Regions from separate parts of the Homo sapiens genome. Here region 2 is linked to region 1. Evidence: fine-mapped expression QTL. Tissue or cell type: lung. Region 1 holds a variant in brackets; the other region holds the start of a gene. All regions are shown on one strand. Distances are from middle to middle.

Region 1 (10,953 bases):
CCAATGAAATCATCAAATGAAATTGATTGAAGTCATCATCAAATGGAATCAAATGGAATCATTGAATGGAATCGAATGGAATCATCATCAGATGGAAATGAATGGAATCATCATAGAATGGAATCGAATGGATTCATTGAATGGAATCAGATGGAATCATCCAATGGACTTGAATGGAATCATTGAATGGACTCGAATGGAATCATTATTGAATAGAATTGAATGGAATCATTGAATGGTCTCGAATGGAATCATTATCAAATGGAATCGAATGGAATCACCGACTAGAATCGAATGGAACAATCATCGAATGGACTCAAATGGAATTATCCTCAAATGGAATCAAATGGAATTATCGAATGCAATCGAATGGAATTATCGAATGCAATCGAATAGAATCATCGAATGGGCTCGAATGGAATCATCGAATGGAATGGAATGGAATAGACAATGAATACGAATGGAATCATCATTGAATGGAATCGAATGGAATCATTGAGTGGAATCGAATGGAATCATGATCAAATGTAATCAAAAGTAATCATCATCCAATGGAATCAGAAATAACCATCATCAATTGGTATTGAATGGAATTGTCATCAAACGGAATTCAAAGGAATCATCATCAAATGGAACCGAATGGAATCCTCATTGAATGGAAATGAAAGGAGTCATCATCTAATGGAATCGCATGGAATCATCATCAAATGAAATCGAATGGAATCATCATCAATTGGAATCTAATGGAATCATTGAACAGAATTGAATGGAATCGTCATCGAATGAATTGAATGCAATCATCGAATGTTCTCGAATGCAATCATATTCAAATGGAATGGAATTTAATAATCGCATAAAATCGAATGAAATTATCATCGAATGGACTCGAATCGAATCAACATCAAATGGAATCAAACGGAATTATCGAATGGAATCGAAGAGAATCATCGAATGGACTCGAATGGAATCATCTAATGGAATGGAATCATCTAATGGATTGGAATGGAATAATCCATGGACACGAATGCAATCATCATCCAATGGAATCGAATGGAATCATCGAATGGACTCGAATGGAATAATCCTTGAACGGAATCGATTGGAATCATCATCGGATGGATACGAATGGAATCATCATTGAATGGAATCGAATGGAATCATCAAATGGAATCAGATGGAATCATCATCAAATGGAATCGAGTAGAATTATGGAATGCAATCCAATGTGATCATCATCGAATGGACTCGAATGGAATCATCATCCAATGGAAACTAATGGAATCAACATCGAATGGAATCGAATGGAAACACCATCGAATTGAAAGGAAAGGAATTATCATGAAATTGAAATGGATGGACTCATCATCGAATGGATTCCAATGAAATCATCGAATGAAATTGATTGAAATCATCATCAAATGGAATCAAATGGAATCATTGAATGGAATCGAATGGAATCATCATCAGATGGAAATGAATGGTATCATCATAGAATGGAATCAAATGGATTCATTGAATGGAATCAGATGGAATCATCCAATGGACTTGAATGGAATCATTGAATGTACTGGAATGGAATCATTATTGAATAGAATTGAATGGAATCATGGAATGGTCTCGAATGGTATCATTATGAAATGGAATCGAATGGAATCACCGAATAGAATCGAATGGAACAATCATCGAATGGACTCAAATGGAATTATCCTCAAATGGAATCAAATGGAATTATCGAATGCAATCGAATGGAATTATCGAATGCAATCGAATAGAATCATCGAATGGGCTCGATTGGAATTATCGAATGGAATTTAATGGAATAATTGAACGGAATTGAATCGAATCGTCATCGAATGAATTGAATGCAATCATCGAATGGTCTCGAATGGAATCATCTTCAAATGGAAAGGAATGGAGTCATCGCATAGAATCGAATGGAATTATCATTGAATGGACTCGAATGGAATCAACATCAAACGGATTCAAACGGAATTATTGAATGGATTCGAAGAGTCATTGAATGACTCGAATGGAATCATCTAATAAAATGGAATCAAATAATCCATGGACTCGAATGCAATCATCATCGAATGGTATCGAATGGAATCATTCAATGGACTCGAATGCAATAATCATTGAACGGAATCGAATGGAATCATCATCAGATGGAAACGAATGGAATCATCATCGAATGGAAATGAAAGGAGTCATCATCTAATGGAATCGCATGGAATCATCATCAAATGGAATCGAATGGAATCATCATCAGATGGAATCTAATGGAAACATTGAACGGAATTGAATGGAATCGTCATCGAATGAATTGAATGCAATCATCGAATGGTCTCGAATGGAATCATCTTCAAATGGAATGGAATGGAATCATCGCATAGAATTGAATGGAATTATCATCGAATTGACTCGAATGGAATCAACATCTAACGGAATCAAACGGAATTATCGAATGGAATCGAAGAGAATCATCGAATGGACTCGAATGGAATCATCTAATGGAATGGAATGGAATAATCCATGGATTCGAATGCAATCATCATCGAATGGAATCAAATGGAATCATCGAATGGACTCGAATGGAATAATCATTGAACGGAATTGAATGGAATCATCATCGGATGGAAACGAATGGAATCGTCATCGAATGGAATCGAATGGAATCATCAAATGGGATCAGATGGAATCATCATCAAATGGAATCGAATAGAATTATGGAATGAAATCCAATGTGATCATCATCGAATGGACTCGAATGGAATCATCATCCAATGGAAACTAATGGAATCAACATCGAATGGATTCGAATGGAAACACCATCGAATTGAAGCGAATGGAATTATCATGAAATTGAATTGGATGGACTCATCATCGAATGGATTCGAATGGAATCATCGAATGAAATTGATTGAAATCATCATCAAATGGAATCGAATGGAATCATTGAATGGAGTCGAATGGAATCATCATCAGATGGAAATGAATGGAATCATCATAGAATGGAATCGAATGGATTCATTGAATTGAATCAGATGGAATCATCAAGTGGACTTGAATGGAATCATTGAATGGACTCGAATGGAATCATTATTGTATGGAATTGAATGGAATCATCGAATGGTCTCGAATGGAATCATCCTAGAATGGAATTGAATTTAATCATCAAATGGAATCGAATAGAATCATCATTGAATGGAATCGAATACAATCGGCATCGAATAGAATCGAATGGAATCATCATCAATGGAATCAAATGGAATTTTCTTCAAATGGAATCGAATGGAAACATCATCAATTAGAATCGAATGGGATCATTGAATGAAACTGAATGGAATCATCATCAAAACGAATCAAAATAAAACAAAGAATGGAATCCAACGGAATCATCGAGTGGGATCAAATGGAATCATCATTGAATGGACTCGCATGGAGTCATCATCAAATGGAATCAAATGGAATCCTTTAATGGACTCGAATGGAATCATTGAATGGACTCCAATGGAATCATCGAATGGAATCTAATGCAATCATCATCGAATGAAATCAAATGGAATCATTGAATGGAATTGAATGGAATCATAATCAAATGGAATCAAATGAAATCATGGAATGCACTCGAATGGAATCATCGAATGGACTCAAATGGAATCAACATTGAGTGGAATCGAAAGAAAACATCTAATGGAGTTGAATGGAATAATCAAATGGAATCATCATCGAATGGACTAGAATGGAATCATCGAATGTACCCGAAAAGAATCATCATCGAATGTAATCCAATGGAGTCATCTAATGCAATCCAATGGAATCATCATTGAATGGAATCGAATGGAATCATCATCGAATGGAATTGAATGGAATCATCATCAAATGGAGTCGAATGGAATCATCAATGAATGGAATCGAATGGAGTCATCGAATGGAGTCCGTTAGAATCATCATCGAATGGAACCGAATGCAGTCATCATCTAACGGAATCAAATGGAATCATCGAATGGACTCGATGGAATGATCATCACATGGAATCGAATGGAATCATCGAATGGACTCAAATGGAATCATCATTGAATGGAATCGAATGGAATCTTTGAATGGAAACAAATGAAATTATTGAATGGAATCGAATAGAATCATCATTGAATAGAATCAAATTGGATCATCATCAAATGGAATCTAATAAAATCATCATCGAATTGAATCTAGTGGAGTCATCATCTAATGGAGTTGAATGGAATCAGCAAGGAATTGAATTGAATTGAGAAATCGAATGGAATCCATTGGAATCATCATCGAATGGAACCGAACGCAGTCATCATACAATGGAACTGAATGGAATCAATGAAGGGACTCGAATTGTGTCATCATTGAATGGAAT[C/T]GGATGGAATCATCGAATGGACTCGAATGGAAACATCATTGTATGGAATCGAATGGAATCCTCGAATGGACTCTGATGGAATCATCATCAAATGGAATCGAATGGAATCGAATTGAATCATCAAATGGACTCTAATGGAATCATCATTGAATGGAATCGAATGGAATCATCAAATGGACTCGAATGGAATCATCATCGAATGGAATCGAGTGGAATCCTTGAATTGAAGCAAATGGAATCATCAAATGGAATCGAACAGATTTGTAAGAAACTTACTTGAACCAAAAAATAGAAAAACAAACAAACCAAAACCCCCTAAAACTTTGACGAGCAAAGTAGACATCAGAACAGGAAATATCACTGGGGATGAAGAATAACATTTCAAAATGACAAAGGGGAAAATACACCAAGAAGTCATGTAAATAAGAATTATGTATGCACACAATAACATTACCTCAAAATACATAATATAAAACCTATTAAAACTGAAAGGTAAAATAGTAAAACCACAGTCATCCATGGGGATTTCAACAGTCTCCTGCCAGAAATTTTTAAATTTTGTTAAACGAAAAGTTGGTAAGGGTAGAGAGGATCTTAAAAATATAATTAGCCAACTTGATCTAATTGAATCTTTTAGAATAATCTAAGAATGAGGAATGAGTTAGCAGAGAAAGAAAAGGCAGACATCAACGTGACATTAGTGTTTCAAGGCTATGAGAATACAACAATAATGGTGTGTGTGTGTGTGTGTGCAGATGGCAAGCTCAATCTTAAAAATATTGAGTTTTAACTGACAATTCATTATTAGGAAAGATAAGAGGAAATGATATCTAGTGAGAGGCTATATGACTGAACTCTAAGATAAAGATCACAGCAGAAATTGTGTACCTGACAGCTCTATAAGGAGGTCAGTCAAAAATAAGTCAGTGATGAATTCTCTGGTGTAAAAGCAGAGGAATGAGGATTAGATTTAAAACACATGGAAGCAGAGTGACTTATGATAAAAACATGAGCTTGAAAATCCTGCAGAGAGAGCTTTAAATCCTGGGTATGATATTCTGCTTGTGTAGGCAATAGTGATAAAAACACAACAACAAAGAGAGGTAAAGAGCACTTTCCTTTGATATAAGTAAAGGGCACGTCTTATTGCACATATATATATATAGGTATTCAACTGAAATTCAACATGTTTCTCTCATTGAAACAGCAAGCTCTCCAGGCCTTCATGTTCCCAGTGAGGTAGGTAACCTTCTGATGATTATACTCACCCTCCCTCATTGCAAAGCCCCATTGTTATTGTCTTGGCTCTGGATTCCCTCAAAAATAGACTATGAAACAAATATCTGGGGTCAGATACTTTAATCAGAAATTGAGTGAGAAAGCACAGAAGTGGAGAAAATGAAACAGAACACGAAGCCAGTGTGAATGAGTAGTTACTGCTATGTGCTCAGTAATGATGGAGGTATGGAGATTGTCTTAAAATAACTTTACAAAGAGATGGGGATGCTGGAATCCCCATCTCCTATTGCTTAAGGATTGCCTTAGAATCATTAACTCTCCACCCCTAACTGCTTCTTTGTTCCTATGTGTGGTTGAGAAGCACTGGTTAGCCTCAAGAAGCTTGCAGGCAGGCCCAAAAATCAGAAAGAAAGGCATGATGTGGGGAGCTCTCAGTTAGCTTGAAACAGGTGAATTTCAGGTGAACACATTGAGTCCAGGACATAGAAGACACGTCATCAGCAATATCTGCTATAGCCAGTTTTCTTTTTCTTTTTAAGAATATATGTACTTTTTATTGGGGGTCCCCAAGTCCCCCTTTGGTTTAATGATTCACGTAACTCAAGAAAGCTGATTTTTTTTTGTGGTTACAGTTTCTAACGTGAAAGAAACCAGATTAAAATAATCAGAAGCATAAAAGCACATAAAGTTGAGTCCAGGACAAACCAGATGTGAGCGTACAGGTGTCCTTTCATAGTGGGGACTTCACACTGACTAATTTTCTTTACAATGGTGTGAGACAACTTGTGTGAACTTGTTGCCAACTAGGGAAGCTCAGTCAGTCTTGAGTCCAGGGTTTTTATTAGGATTCCACCACATATGCATCGAGCGTCCTGTGACTGAACTTAGCTACTTAGTTCCCAACCTCCCTATGCCCTAAGAGAGGTCATATTAATATAGCATTACACAAAGTCATAGGCATATAGAAACAGGTGCTCACAAGAAATCACGTTGTTAGCATCAGCTATTTGATAAGACCTACATTTTCAGGTATACAAAGACTCTCATCAGGCAGCATATACCAAGGGCTCATAGGTTATCATCTCCTAGGAGCTTGTCAAGGGCCAGTCCTGAAGACCTTTGGAATGTGCAAGGTTTTGGAAAGCCATGTCTGCAGAATTAACCCTTCATTGCACAACTTCCAAGAATTTTTTTTTATCTTTAAAAATGTTTTTTGATCTTTGACAATGTACCAACCAATACTGAGTAATTAGTAACAACAGTGTACTCCTGAGTACTTGCAACTGCAAGGAGAAAAAGGACAGATGCACTTACATAGGACAGATGCAAATAGACACCATTATGACAAGTAAAGCTGGAATAATCAATAAATTCCTAAAGACAAAGTGGGGCTGGTCAGATTGGGAGACCGCTGACAGCTGCAGAAGTTGGGAAAGATCCATCATCTTGAATCTTTTTCCCCACAAACCCACTATGATCTGTCAAGCAATTGGTAAGGAATCCAAGAGAGTCTGTATATGATACAGACCAGGGAGAGCAGAACACTTGGGAGGTGATGAGGTCTTGGGGGCTGAGCCCTTATGAATGGGATTAGTGTCTTTATAAAAGAAGCTCAATGGAGTTCTTGTGTGCCTTCCACTATGTGAGGACATAGAAAGAAGGCACCATCTATGAACCATGAAATTGGCTCTCATCAACACTGAATTTCTGAGCATCTTGACCTGAGATCTTACAGCCTCAAGAAGTGTGAAAAAAGAAATATCTGTTGTTTTTTAGTCACCCGGTTTATGTTATTTTGTTATAAGAGTCCAAATAGACCAAGATATTCCACTTAATATGTAGGGGAAGGCAACAAAAACTGCCACACTTAGAATACTCCTGACGCTGGGAGTATGAAAACAGGAAAAACAAAACAAAACTGCTCTTGAAGGTGAAGGAGGAATATCACTGAGCTCACCAACACAGCCAGGAAAAGAACAGAAGTGTGAGAAGGCTACATTCCTGAGACCCTGAGAAAAAGTACCTGCATAAGACTGAGATGAAATTACCTACCTTAGTTATAATTGAAATCCCAAAAAGAAAAGAGGAAAAAATAATGGAGCAAAAGAAATATATTTCAAAATAACTGCCAAAAATATTCTAAAAGAAGTGACAGGAAATCAAACTTCAGATATAGGAAACTCAGAGAATGTCAAATAGAACAAAAAGAAATAAGAATTCCATCTTGAAAAATCTTTAAAAAATCAACTCTAAATTTTATATCTTGCTCCAAATATATAGAGGTATAAATAGGTTATCATCAAGATATGGAGAAAGCCATATCATGGAAACACTAAAATAAAGCTGTGGAAGGACTACATTGATATTAGACACAACAGAGTTCAGAACAAGAAATAGTATGAGATGAGAGATAATAAATAATATAATAATCAATTCTCAAGATGTAAACATCCTACTAATTAGGATATGCAGCTAACAACAGAACCTCCAAATACATGAGGTAAAACAGGAAAGAAATCAAAGGTAAACTAGAAAAATCCAAAATTATATTTGCAGACTTCAACACTTTTGTTTTAGTAATGGACAGACTAGGCACAAACTCAGTAATCATATGGAAGATAAGAAAAACAATATCACCAACAAGACATCCAATCTTCAATGGCAGATACTTTTTCCTTTCAAGTGAAAAAAAAAACAGTATGGCATATTCTCTAACAAACCCAGAATTTCTAATATTTGCTTTCTTCCTTCCTTCTTTCCATCTTCCTTTCTCTTCTCTTCCCTTGCCTTCTTCCTTCCTTTCTTTTCCGCTTTCTTTTCCTTTCTTTTTTCTCCTTCCTTCCTTCTTTCCTTCCCCTTATTCTTCCTTCCCTCCTCCCTCCCTTGCTTTCTCCCTCCCTTCTTTTCTCTTATTCTTTCTCACTTTCTTTCCTTTTTTCTCCCTTCCTCCCTCCCTTTTTTCCTTCCTGCCTCCCTTCCTTTCCTTTTTCCTTCCTTCCTCCCTTCTATTTTCTTTGTTTGCCTTCCTCCCTGTTACCATTCTCTCTTCCTCCTTTCCTTCCTCCTTCCATCACTTTTTCTTTCTTTCTTGAGTTCTTGCTTTCTTTTTTCTCCTTTCCTGCCTTTCTCCCTTCCTCCCTCCCTTCTCTCATTTCCTCCTTTACTTTCTTCTTTCCTTCCTTCCTTTTTTCTTTCTCTTTAGTACAATTCATATTATTTAAAAAAAATTAAGAAAGAGAGGCAGAAAAATAAAGAACACTTTAATCTGCAGGTAAATAGATTATGTCTGCTGTAGACAAAATAATGGACTCACAAAAATGTTCATGTCCTAATTCCCGGAGTCTAACATACAAATATGTTAGGTTGCATGGCAGTGGGAAATTAGATTTCAAGTGAAATTAAGGTTCCAAAGGCAGCGGGGACAAAAAGCCACGGCGGCAAAAAAGCGCGGCAGCAGGGGCAAAAAGCCACGGCGGCAGTTGGAGAAAGACGCGGCGGTGGGGACAAAAAGCCACACTGAGGGGGGTAAAAAGCCACTGAGGCGGGGGCAAAAAGCAGCGGGAGCGGGGGCAAAAAAAACACAAAAAGCCGCGGCGGCTGGGGGAAAAAGCCGTGGTGGCAGGGTGCAAAAAAGCTGCAGCGACAGGGGCGAAAAGCCCCGGCGGCGGAGGCAAAAGACTGCGGCAGAGGGGGCAAAAAGCTGCGGCAGTGGCGGTTAAAAAAAGCCACGGCGGCAAAAACCCGCGGCGGTGGGGGTAAAATCCCGTAGTGGCGGGGGAAAAAACAGCGGTGGCAAAAAGTCACGGAAGCGGGGGCAAATAGCCCTGGTGGCGGGTGCAAAATGCCGCAGCGGTGAGGACAAAAAGCCGTGGCTTCAGGGACAAAAAGCTGCAGCAGCGAAAAGCTGTAGTGGCGGGGGCAAAAAGCCACGGCAGCGGCGGGGGGGCAAAAAGCAGCGGCGGCGGGAACAAACACCGCCGCGGCAAAAAGCCTCAGTGGCGGGGGCGAAAAGCCGCGGCGGCGGGGGAGAAAAGCCACAAAAAGCCATGGTGGCGAGGCTAAAAAGCTGTGGCTTTGGGGGCAAAAAGCCACAGCCTCAAAAAACCATAGTGGTGGGGCAAAAAGCTGCGGTGGCGGGGACAAAAAGCAGCAAGAGCGGGGGCAAAAAAATCACAAAAACCCGCGGAGACGGGGGGAAAAATCCACGGGGGCAAAAAGCCGCAAAAAGCAGCAGCGGCAGGGGCAAAAACCGCGGCGGCAAATAGCCTCAGTGGCAGGAGCCAAAAGCCATGGTGGCGGGGGCAAAAAGCCGTGGTGGTGGGCCCAAAAAGCCGCGGTGGTGGAATAAAACTGTGACTGCAAAAAGCCACGGCGATGGGGATAAGAAGCTGTGGCGGGGGCAAAAAGCCACAGCGGCGGGGAGTAAAATGCCGCAAAAAGCCGCGGTGGCGAGGGCAAAAAGGTGTGGCTTCGGGGGCAAAAAGCTGTAGCGGCTGGGCAAAAAGCCGCGGTGGCGAAGGCAAAAAGCTGTGGCTTTGGGGGCAAAAAGCCGCGGCAGCGGCTGGGGCGGAAAAACCACAAAAATCCGCTGAGACAGGGGGAAAAAGACGCGGGGGCAAAAAGCCGTGGCGACAGGGGGAAAAAATCTGCAAAAAGCAGCAGCGGCAGGGTTAAAAACCGCAGCGGCAAAAAGCCTCAGAGGTAGGAGCAAAAAGCCACGGCTGCGGGAGGGCAAAAAGCCACGGTGGTGGGACCAAAAAGCCATGGCGGTGGGAATAAAAAGCCGCGGCTGCAAAAAGCAGCGGCGGTGGGGATAAAAAGTCGTGACGGCAAAAACCCGCGGCGGTGGGGGCAATAAGCCGTGGCGGCACGGGGAAAAAGCCGTGGCGGCGAGGGCAAAAAGCTGTTGCTTCGGGGGCAAAAAACCACGGCGGCAAAAAGCCCTAGTGGTGGGGCAAAAAGCAGCGGGAGCGGGTGCAAAAAACAAAAACCCGGGGCGACGGGGGGAAAAAGCCGCATGGGCAAAAAGCCGCAGTGGCAGGGGGTCAAAAAGCCACGGCGGTGGGGGGGCAAAAAGCTGCAAAAAGCAGCGGCGGCGGGGGCAAAAACTGCAGAGGCAAAAAGCCTCAGCGGCAGGAGCAAAAAGTCATGGCGGCGGGGGCAAAAAGCCGCGGCGGCTAAAACCCATGGCGGCAGGGTCAAAAACCATGGCTTCGGAGGCAAAGAGCCGCGGTGGCAAAAAGCCGTAGTGGTGGGGGCAAAAAGCCACAAAAAGCCGTGGCGGCAGGGCCAAAAAGCCATGGCGCCAAGGGCAAAAAGCCGTGGCT
Region 2 (10,953 bases), 370 kb after region 1:
TGCAACCAGCTAGAAATGAAACACAAATGTGCATTTATAAATAAAGACATTTAAATTACTACCAAAAATTTATACTACTTTAACATAAGTCTACAGTGGGAAAATACCCGAGTGACCCCAGAATGTTAAGTTTTAAGAAGCAAAACCTTGGCTGGGCGTGGTGGCTCATGCCTGTAATCCCAGCACTTTGGGAGGGCAAGGTGGGTGGATGACCTGAGGTCAGAAGTTCGAGACCAGCCCGGCCAACATGGTGAAATTCTGTCTCTACTAAAAATACAAAAATTAGCCAGGTGTGGTGGCACACGCCTGTAGTCCCAGCTACTCAGGGAAGCTGAGGCAGGAGAATTGCTTGAACCCAGGAGGCAGAGGTTGCAGTGAGTGGAGATCGCGCCAATGCACTCCAGTCTGGGCGACAGCATGAGACTCCATCTCAAAAAAAAAAAAAAAAGAAAAGAAAAGAAAAGAAAAAAAAGAAAAACCTTAAAAAGACAATGTTTCTGTTAATGTTGATGCTTTATTTCTACATTTCTGAAGTGAATATTTTATAGACAAAATTCTATGGCTGAAAAATAATGAAACTGTTTGCTATCACAGCATGCTAAGATGAAAGTAAGTTTAAATATGTTCTAAAATATAGGCTATATTGTTAAGTGGAAAGAAAAAATGCAAAACACAGAGCGAGAATGTGTATATATATATATATATATACACACACACACACACGTGGTATAAGCTACACTTCATATAATGAGAAGGGGATATTAAAAATTATACATGTTATCTGCACATTTGTGCATAAGATATCTAAAAAGGATAAAAAGGAACCTAATGAAATGGGAATCTAATAAAAGGAAATCTAATAATATGAGCATGCAGAAAGAGGTGGGGAAGAACATAACTAGCCTAAGTAACTTTGGAAAACTATTTTCATTGTTGAAAGCTAAAGACAAAAAAAAGTCCCACAAATACTATTTTCTAATTAGTAAATTTATTTCTCAACAAGCATACGGTTTCACAATTCTCAATCTACTATACACACACATACACACACACACACACACACACACACACACACCAGGAACAAACAAACAAGTTAACATATTTTGGAAAATAAAAGCCAATTTTCTCACTGTTAGAAGTTACAAAGAAGGAAAAGCTAGAATAAACTCAGTGGTGTTAGAGTGGAATCAAAGGCAACAGTAAGAACTCACAGTTTTTATAAGTAGGTAGGTAGGTACACAGTCAGATAGGTATAGACAAATGTCAATGCATGTGTGAGTACACCAACATAGAGTTCTTAGCTCTGTCAATGGAGAGATCCTAGAGTAAATGACATTCCAGTGCTAATGAGCACACCTAGTGCTCAGATCATGGTTTCTAGTACCATTCTCCAGTTAATGATGAACCAGGGCTCCCTAGAAATAGGGTTAATTTCAGGGCTGAGGTCAGAGAAGATGCATGATAAGCCTGGAACACTTTGTGATGCCAAAAATAAGGAAGAACTCAAAAATGATGAAGGCATATCAAAAGGAAACAGGTGCCAACCTGAAGGGGCTCTCAATGGCCAATGTTGAGTGTTGGGAGAAAAGCTGAGTGTTGGGAGAGAAGCTGAGGCAGGGCTTGGAACACGTCCAGGGTCTAGGATTAAAACCCCTCGTGGTCTTTGGAATGTGTCTAGACTTGCTGGCTCCTTGCTTCTAGCACTCCCTTTATCTCAAGTAGCCGTATGTTTCAAAGAAAATGCTAAACCGTCACAGCTGTAGCTCATTCACTTGATACACCGCTTCCTTTCAACCCCCACATCTTCACTGCCTGTTTCTTTGTTTGATCATCAATAAATAGTGTGGGATCCCAGAGCTCAGGGCCTTTGCAGCCTCCACACTAGCATTGGCTGCATGGTCCCACTTTCTCTTTTAACTTGTCTTTTCTCGTTCCTTTGACTCCGCCAGACTTAGTAGCCCCCATGGCCTGGTGTTGGGTCTGATCACTCCAACAGTTGAGACAACCTGAAAATAAAATAAATAATATTAGCATTGGATCATAATCCAAAGAATACACTAAACAGCCATGAGTCCATAATAATATAAATAATTGAATAAATAAGTGGTGTAGAAGCAACAGCTGTTTCCTACTAGAACATTCCAAATAAATGCAGAAGTAATGATGGAAAGAAATCATTAGGCAACCTCCACCGTAATAACTGCTATAGGTAAAAATCTACTCATGGGTCCTAGGACTAATGGGGGAGAATACAATATCAAACAGGATATTTGTATATCTCTAAATGTCTCCCCGTATGATACATTTCAGCTAAAAAGGGAAAAATATTTGGCAGCCCCCACTGTACCAAGATTAACATCACCAGTAATGGCAACATCACGTACCATCTGATAAAATGCCCTGAGAAGTATGTAACATTACTTCTGTGACATTCCTGCCACATGAATCGTATTTATTTCATAGACTGTACCTTCATTTGGGTTTGTCTGATGTTGCCTCATGATTAGATGGAAGGTTACTTCATGATGAAACATTCCACAAACCCAAATGGAAGTGCAGTCTACAAAATATTTACAAAATAAATATAATTCTTAAAAAGTATCAAGGCCATGAATACAAAAGAAATAATGAGAAAATTATGCAAACTGGAGGAGGCTGACGAAAAATGAGAACTACATGCAATGAGGACAGAAAATGGGTACTGGAGGGAGAATTCAGATGCGCTCTGAACATTAGTTGACTGTACTGACTCAGTATGAGTTTTTCACCTTTAATAATTGTTCTATGATTATGCTAAACATTAACATTAGGGATAGGTGAAGGGTATGCAGAAATACTGTTAATATTATTTCAATTTTTCTGAAGTATATAATTATTTCAAATTGAAACGTTTTAAAATAAAAATTGATTCTATTTCTTCTTATAACTAATACAGCTCTTAAAATGTTAGTACACTTATTAAAAATCCCATTGAGAATAAGGTCTAAGGATCAACAATGACTGTCACCTTGGGATATTCATCCTACAGCCCCATGCCTAGAGGAACTAACCTTAGGATTCTGATGAGAAAACCATGCCTGAAGCCAAAATCCACCCCTTTTCTGCCTCCAATCCAAGGACAGAAATATACATGTACAGAATTCAAATAGCACACATAATTACAATCCTCATTTTATAAATAGTTTTGTCACTTGGAACAAATGCTATTTCCATGAATATGTACATTTTACATATCATCAATCCATTTATGAAACAACAAAGAGGGTCATAGAGACATGTAAACAAACAAGAAGCTCAGAACCCTGCTGAGGTATAATATAAAAACACCTGATTAAATAATCTGGAAGGAGGGTAAATGGTATGAAGAAATCAAAACAGGATGAATAGTTGAGCCACTCAAAGTTACAGGGAGCAAACTAAGTGGGAAAATAAATCGTTAACAGTTACAAAAACTGGAAATGTGCTTGTATATATGAGACAAATTGTCCATAAAATCAACTTGTTTATCTGACATTGGCTGGCAAGGATCTCCCTGTACTAGTAACACAGACATTCAACTAGATTAGGAGTCATCCAGCAACTTTTCCTGAAAATGGCAAAACAGTAAACATGTTTGGAGCTGTGGTCCACATCATCTATTCCATATTCTACTCGACCTCTGCAGCATGAGAGCAGCCATAGACAACACATAAACAAGTAAACAGGGTTACGTTTAAACAAAACTTTAAGTATAAAAGCAGTACTGATAGGGTTTTTGCATATGTTACTTTAATTATGACTTTAATTGCTTAAAGTATTTCCTGGAAACACGAAGTTGTTAACAAGTGTTAGTTATTTTTGTTTGAGAGAATTTCAAGAGATTGAAATTATCAACAGAGGAATGTGAAAGTCGTTGGGCATTAAGCTAAGCCATAAAAACTTTACCCTGAAAATCGTGGGGGTGTCCTTGAATGCCCACGAGTTTAATTTCCATTTTCTGCCTGAGGTTTTAAGGAGTATGCAGGATTAGGAGGGTAAACACTCATAGCTCATTAGTCTAACAGTGAAGAAACCATGAGGGCCTAGAGTAATGGAAAGGCAATGAAGTGAAAAGACAGTTAAAATGTGTAATTTTCCAAATACAGAACTGAGATATTTAAAAGGATTGTATGTGGTGGTTGGGTGCCATTACAAAGGAGGTGGATGAATTTTAGGCGTCTAGATTTGTGGTGCTGATGGTTGGGCAGGGGACAAGCACACAGGGAAACAAGGAAAAAAGATGTATTTAGGTTTAGGTAAAAATATCACATGCTCAGTATCCAATTCCTGTTAAACACCTGGAGATGGGAGTCTGTGGTGCAAAGGGAGTTCGAGTTTAACTATACACGATTGGGTGATGCTGGCATGCAAGGAGAGATGAAGCCATGGATTTCATTAAGGACCCCAATCTGAATGTGGACCGCACACAAGAATCAGAACCAAAACCTGGACACAGCCAAGACTGCAGGTTTCTCTTCCCTTGCTCCAAATCCACTTTCAGAAGAATTAGAGAAGAATTGACTAAAGAATGTAAGTAAACTCCAGGAAACAGGGTTCCACAGAAGCTGGGGAAAGGTCAGTACGTGGAAGAGAGAGATCAGTAGTACCTGCTCGCTACAAGGAGGCGCCTCCAAATGTCAATGCCTATTTTCAACAAGTGGGACCCAAAGTGATTCATGCCAGTGCTCTAAAATACACCTGACCCTTGAACAATGTGGGGGATATGGATGCTAACCCCCCACAGTCAAAAATCCAAGTTTAACTCTCAACTCCCCCAAAGCATAACTCCTAACGGCCTGCGGTTGACCGGAAGTCTTTGTCACTAATAATACAAAAAATTAAGACCTATTTTGCCTGTTATTCACATTACACACTGAATATGCTGCTCCCAGCGGAGGCCGAGACTCCTGCCCGGGCACCCCCTCACAGCCCCCACTCCAGCCTCCCCAGACTCACCCTCGGCGGGGCCACCTTCTTCTCATTTCAGTCTGGGGCCACATTCTCCGGGCCTGCGGGGCATGGCAGGAGGCAAAGCCAAAGGCGAAGTGGCCACAAATTCCGGTGGGGGCGCTGGCTCCTGCCCCACCCCAGCATCTATACCCTGAGTCTGATAGGACGAGAAGGAACATTTCAGCCAGCCCTGATTGGGTCATATTATCCAATCAGAGTTGTTTTGCACAGTGGCTCTCATCCAATCCGAACATGCCTTACAGGATATCTAGTTAAATAAGTCATTATAAATAGTTGCTCCGTGGGCTTTCCGCATTTCACCCTGCTCCAGGCAGCGTGGTCTGTATGGCTCCGCCCTGGGCAGGAGGAGAAAGAAGAGGGCCAGGCACCACGTGCCTGCACTCTCCCTGGATGCTGGAGGCTGCTCCGCCGTGGGCAGGAGGAGAAGGAAGAGAACTGGGTGCCGCCTGCCTGCACTCTCTCCGGATGCTGGAGGCTGGAGGCAGTGAGGCAGCAACAGCGCGAGGGCGAGGCGACTTTGGAGCTGCCTCATGCAGCGACCTCGCCTTCCGCTGCGCCTCCTCCCAGAACCCAAGAAGCCTGGAACCTGTGGCGTCCAGCCCTGAAAGGAGGAGACGGCAACCCAGCCGCGCGTGAGTCCGGGAGTCTGGGATACCGGCGGCAGAGGAAGGACAGGCAGGAGTCTCGGCCTCTCGGGGAGCGACGTGCCGGGAAAGGCAGGAGGGCCCCAGCGGTGGGGGCGGGGGTTGCGCGCCGGGGAGGGCGGCCTCAGGCTGGGAGCCTGGCAGATCGTCTGACTCTCCCCGAGCCCCATCCCAGGCCGAGCCAGGACCCCTCTGATGCACAGGCGTCTCAGGAGCCCGTTTCTTTCTTGAATCCGGGGCCCAGTGCGGCTTGAACCTAGCCCCCGACCTCCTCCTCGCCCTCTCAGAGTCCGCTGGGGTGGGCGCTGAAGGAGCCCGGGTCGGAGAGGAGCCCTCCCCTTCTCTCCTGCGTGGAAGCCCTGCAGCCTCCGTTTCTTTTGGGACTGGGGTCCGGGGCCTTCTGCCTGACCCGGGGTGAGAAAGGGAGCCCTGATCAGGACCCGGTGAGAGGGCGCTGGAGCCCGGGAGCGGCAGGAGCCTTGAGCGGCAGCCCGGGAAGAGGATGGGGTCACCTTCTGCCCCAGGTCCCCCACTGCCAGGATCTCTGTCACCTTCTGGGGGTCCTGTCCCCTGGGGTCCCACCCCCCGGGCTGCCTGTGGGTATCTCTCATCTGGAACTGGAAATAACCCTCTTCATAGTACGGCTTAGCAAATATTTATTCGCCCATGCACCCCCCTTTTTTTTCCTTCATAGTGTTCTTTTTGTCTTGGATCATTTGTGTTTTTCCTACATTGATGTGAAGCATTTTTAAAGACACTTTAGAGATTAGTCCTTTATTGGTTCATTTCTATTGTAGGTTGTTGTTTCCTACTCTGGTCTTTGTTGTTTAATTTCAGTTTTAATTTCTTGCTTGGTTTAGTTCATGTAACAATATTTTTCTTAGAATATTTGTATCTGTGTTTGTGAAACAGAACATCTATTATTTCTGGGTTTTTTATTGTCTGATCAGATTGTGTATTAATGTAATGCTGGCTTCTCGAAACAAATTGAAAAACCATCCCTTTCGTCTTTCTCTTTGAGAGAGAGTGAGCAGTGTCAATATTTTTTTCTTCCTTAAATATTTGGAACATTTTCAAAGTCTGATCCTGGTGTTTTCCTTGTGGAGCATTATTGTTGATTTGTTGGATTTTTAAAATTAGTTAGTTAATTTTGTTTAATATATATAGGAGTGTTCTTATTTTATGCTATTTTTGTGCCAGTTTTAGTAAGTTGGGTTCAGCATCTGTTGCGATCTCTGTTGTCAGACTTTTGATCATATGTATTTCACAAAATTCTCTGATTATCTTGTTATAATACTGTTATGTAGAGTTGTTGTTTTGATTCTGATACTGGTCACTTGTGTTCTTTCATCTTTTTTCCTTAATCAGTTTTGCCTGCACTCTCCCTGGATGCTGGAGGCTGGAGGCAGTGACGCAGCAACAGCGCGAGGCGACTTTGGAGCGGCCTCATATAGCGACCTCGCCTTCCGCTGCGCGTCCTCCCAGAGCCCAAGAAGCCCGGAACCTGTGGCATCCATCTCTGAAAGGAGAAGACGGCAACCCAGCCGAGGGTGAGTCCGGGAGTCTGGGGTGCCGGCAGCGGAGGAAGGACAAGCAGGAGTCTCGGCCTCCCGGGGAGAATTTCACAAAATTCTCTGATTATCTTGTTATAATACTGTTACGTAGGCTGTTGTTTTGATTCTGATACTGGTCTCTTGTGTTCTTTAATCTTTTTTCCTTAATCAGTTTTGCTAGTGGTTTATTAACTATGTTGTTTATAAAAACAACTTTTAGCCTTGGTTTATTTGTGTTATGTTTTTTTTTCCATTTCATTGATGTTTGTTATCTTTATTATTGCCTTCATCCTGTATTCTTTGCACTTGATTTTTCTTTCTTGATTCTTGAGAAAAAAGTTGAGGTGCCGGGCACGTTGGCTTACGCCTGTAATCCCAACACTTTGGGATGCCAAGGTGGGTGGTCAGGAGTTCCAGACCAGCCTGGCCAACATAGTGAAACCCCCATCTATACTAAAAATACAAAAATTAGCAGGGCGTGGTGGCAGACACCTGTAATCCCAGCTACTCGGGAGGCTGAGGCATGAGAATCGCTTGAACCTGGGAGGTAGAGGTTGCAGTGAGCCGAGATCGCCCCATTGCACTCCAGCCTGGGCAACCGAACAAAACTTCTTCTCAAGAAAAAAAAAAGAAGTTGAGGTGATTGATTTTCAGTGTTTCTGGACTCCTGCCCTGCAGAGATCCTCTTGCTGTAACCTGTTTCATGTGAGGTAGAGTTTAGAAAATATTTATTGGCCTCTGTGCCTTACTTTTCTTCATATACTCTTCTTATTTTGTTGATTTATCTTTAGGGATTTTTTTCCTTATGTTAAATTGAAGGACTTATTGTTAAAATCTGTAAGTTAGCCCTTTATTGGCTTATTTTTGTCATAGGTTCTTGTTCTCTAGTTTGATTTTTGTTGTTTCATTTCTTTGTGTTCATAGTTGTATATAGTAATCTGGTTGATAATGATCTTGTATGCAGTAGCTTTGCTTAATTTATTTATTAATTGTAACACTTTATGTCATGTTAGGCTGTGCTGAGTGCTTCTGGGAGCAGCCAGGTTTCCATGAACTCCCAGTTTACTCTAAATACTCTAGCAGCCCACATGTGCACACACTGGATAATGGTCATGCATGTAGAGCAATGATGCTGGGGAGGCACCGACTCTGTCATTCTGTGAATCCACCGCACAATCACAAACATTAGCATTAAAATAAAATGGACTGTTAGGCAACTGCAAAGGACTAATGCACCTATGTGGCACAAATGTGTCTTTCCGTATTCAAAGTACTTGTAAGAGCTTCAAGTTCCTCATACTCAGCCACTGACCTCAGGGTTCTTGGTACACAGGCATACATGTGCAGACACACATACAGGCACACATATACACATGAATGCACATATGTGCACACATATTTACAGGCACATGCAGATGTGCACACACAGACCTGGGTGAGAAAGTCAGATGTACATGGAACAGCCCCTGCTTTGTAAGCTGTCTGGCTTTGTAGGGAGAAAGAGGTGAAACAACACACTTGTTATCTTGGAAGAGGAGATGAAGGGAGCTGAGCTGGATATGTCCAGTGGGGAGAAAGCCAGGAGCCACTCCACCGAAAATCGAGGTCTCCACATGGATGATACCCACAAAACATTGGCAGGAAGGACACAGCCAGCACCACATCAGTGGTGACTTTCATGAGTGTCAACTGTGGCCATCCAAATTAAAGGCCTGGCAATGGGATAAGTTAGCAACTGAACTTTCTGTATGTTACCTTATTAACTTTCTGTATATTAGCTTATTAACTTTCTGCAATCAAATGCTGATTAAGCATTTTCTGAGCCAAAAGCTTTGTGTAATTTGAATCTAGTGAAAAAATGTTATGCGTTTAACACTATAACTTGAGATCTAAAAACAAAAAAACAATTGCATAAGAATTGGTCAGATACCTTGTCTTTGAAACATACTGAAGTCTTCAAAATTAATCTGATAGCTCTGCAGTTGGTATGTGGCATAAGAAAATATTTGGCATGAAGGGGAGTAACACACCACATGAATTCATTCATTATGAAGAAATTCATTATGAATATATGTGGGCAAATTATTAACAACCCTCCCAAAAGCAGAAAGCTCAGACTCAGGAAGATCCATTTAAATGGAGTGATTTGGGAGATGATTTCAAGCGCAACTCTGCATTGACTCAGCATTTATTAAGTCATACAGCAGGCTACTGGAGGCCTCACTGCAGCCTGGGCTGGTATTCAGTGTCCTCCTCCTTCCTTCTCAGTAGACTTCCTTGGCCTTGATAATAATACGTGTTAACAAACACAAATCTCAAAATACACATAATGTTTCTTCCCCCACAAGCCAGGGTATCAGCTCTGCAAATCAGATGACCCCAAGGTCAGTGGGGTTGACCAGGGACACCATTCTGCATTCCTCCTCAGCTTCCAGATCCTGAGGAGCTCTGGGGCCTTCCTTCTGGACAGGGAACATGTCTGCCTGGCTTCCTCAGCCAGGTACGGGAGGCTTTGGGGACCTGTGTCTGTCTCTGGGAAGGAGGAAGGAGCCTGTGGCATCTTCCTTAAGCAAAAGCACATCCAGCCCATGGCCAAACTTCAGAGTGGGGCGAGGGGCCCAGCACAGCTCCTCCGTTCCTGCAGCAGAGCCCAGAAAACACATCTGATGTTGTGGCTGCCTCAAACCTACAAACACCATGGGTTTGAAGTGTCCTGTTGACATGGCCATGGCCACTTTCCCCGTGGACCGTGGCAAGTTTTTGTTTTTGGTTTTTGTTGTTTGTTTGAGACAAGGTCTCACTTTGTGGCCCAGGCTAGAGTGCAGTGGTGCAAACTCGGCTCATTACAGCCTCCACCTCCTGGGCTCAAGCAATCCTTCCACCTCAGCCTCCCAAAGTGCTAGAATTCCGGGCTTGAGCCACCGTGCCAGGCCTTGTGTAGAAGTATTATACATTATCTTTAAAATGTAGTTTAGTGCTAATAATCTAAAATTGTGTTGCCATTTACTATTAATATGCCCTTTGTGGTGCATCTAATAAAATGCTTTGCTTCATAACCTGAAACAAAAAAACTTTCACTATATTTACTTGATCAGATCAACAACTATAGAAGTCTTAGAATAATGATATTCTTACTCAAAAGAAAAGCAACAACTCATCTTTAATGAAACTGTTTCTGTGTTTTATTAGTGGTTGAGAAATAACACATTCCTTCAGCAGTGGCAGCAGTCAGATACCATATGAATTTTTTATTTTTTTTTACTTTGATAAATCCTGAGGCTCTGTTGAGGAAGAAGCTTCCACAGTAGGCCCTAGGAGAGCTGCAGCCACCATGTCCACACTGTGTTATGCACAAATGGGAATGTAGTTTCCCAGAGAAAACAACTTCTGTGGGTAGATTTGTGATCGAAGTTTGTGAATAGCTTTAAAAAATCCTTATGAAGGCCAGGCACAGTGGCTCACGCCTGTAATCTCAGCACTTTGGGAGGCTGAGGCAGGCAGATCACCTGAGGTCAGTTCGAGACCAGCTTGACCAACATGGAGAAACCCCATCTCTACTAAAAATACAAAAATTAACCAGGCATAGTGGCACATGCCTGGAATCCCAGCTACTTGGGAGGCAGAGGCAGGAGAATTGCTTGAACCTGGGAGGCAGAGGTTGCAGTGAGCTGAGATCGCACCATTGCACACAAGCCTGGGCAACAACAGCGAAACTCTATCTTAAAAAAAAAAAAGAAAAGAAAAGAAAAAAAAAGGCTGGGCATGAT

Evidence for each region. PIP is the estimated chance that this variant, and not a neighbour inherited with it, causes the effect.
Region 2: it holds the start of LINC00839, and the variant in region 1 is the best candidate, but not a certain one, in a credible set for the expression of LINC00839 in lung (GTEx, PIP 0.69).

What each region holds. Positions count from the first base shown.
Region 1 is chr10:42,101,992-42,112,944 of GRCh38, forward strand. No RefSeq gene overlaps it. Among named protein-coding and RNA genes, the nearest start is that of LINC00839, 370 kb to the right of the region's middle. RefSeq lists enhancers at 1-529, 1,066-1,601, 1,602-2,137, 2,138-2,673, 2,674-3,209 and 1 more. The variant C/T (reference allele first, on the strand shown) is at 4,388.
Region 2 is chr10:42,470,260-42,481,212 of GRCh38, forward strand. LINC00839 (long intergenic non-protein coding RNA 839) reads left to right here and starts at 5,232. Exons shown (of 5, transcript NR_026827.1): 1 at 5,232-5,621; 2 at 7,002-7,183. It also overlaps the pseudogene CCNYL2.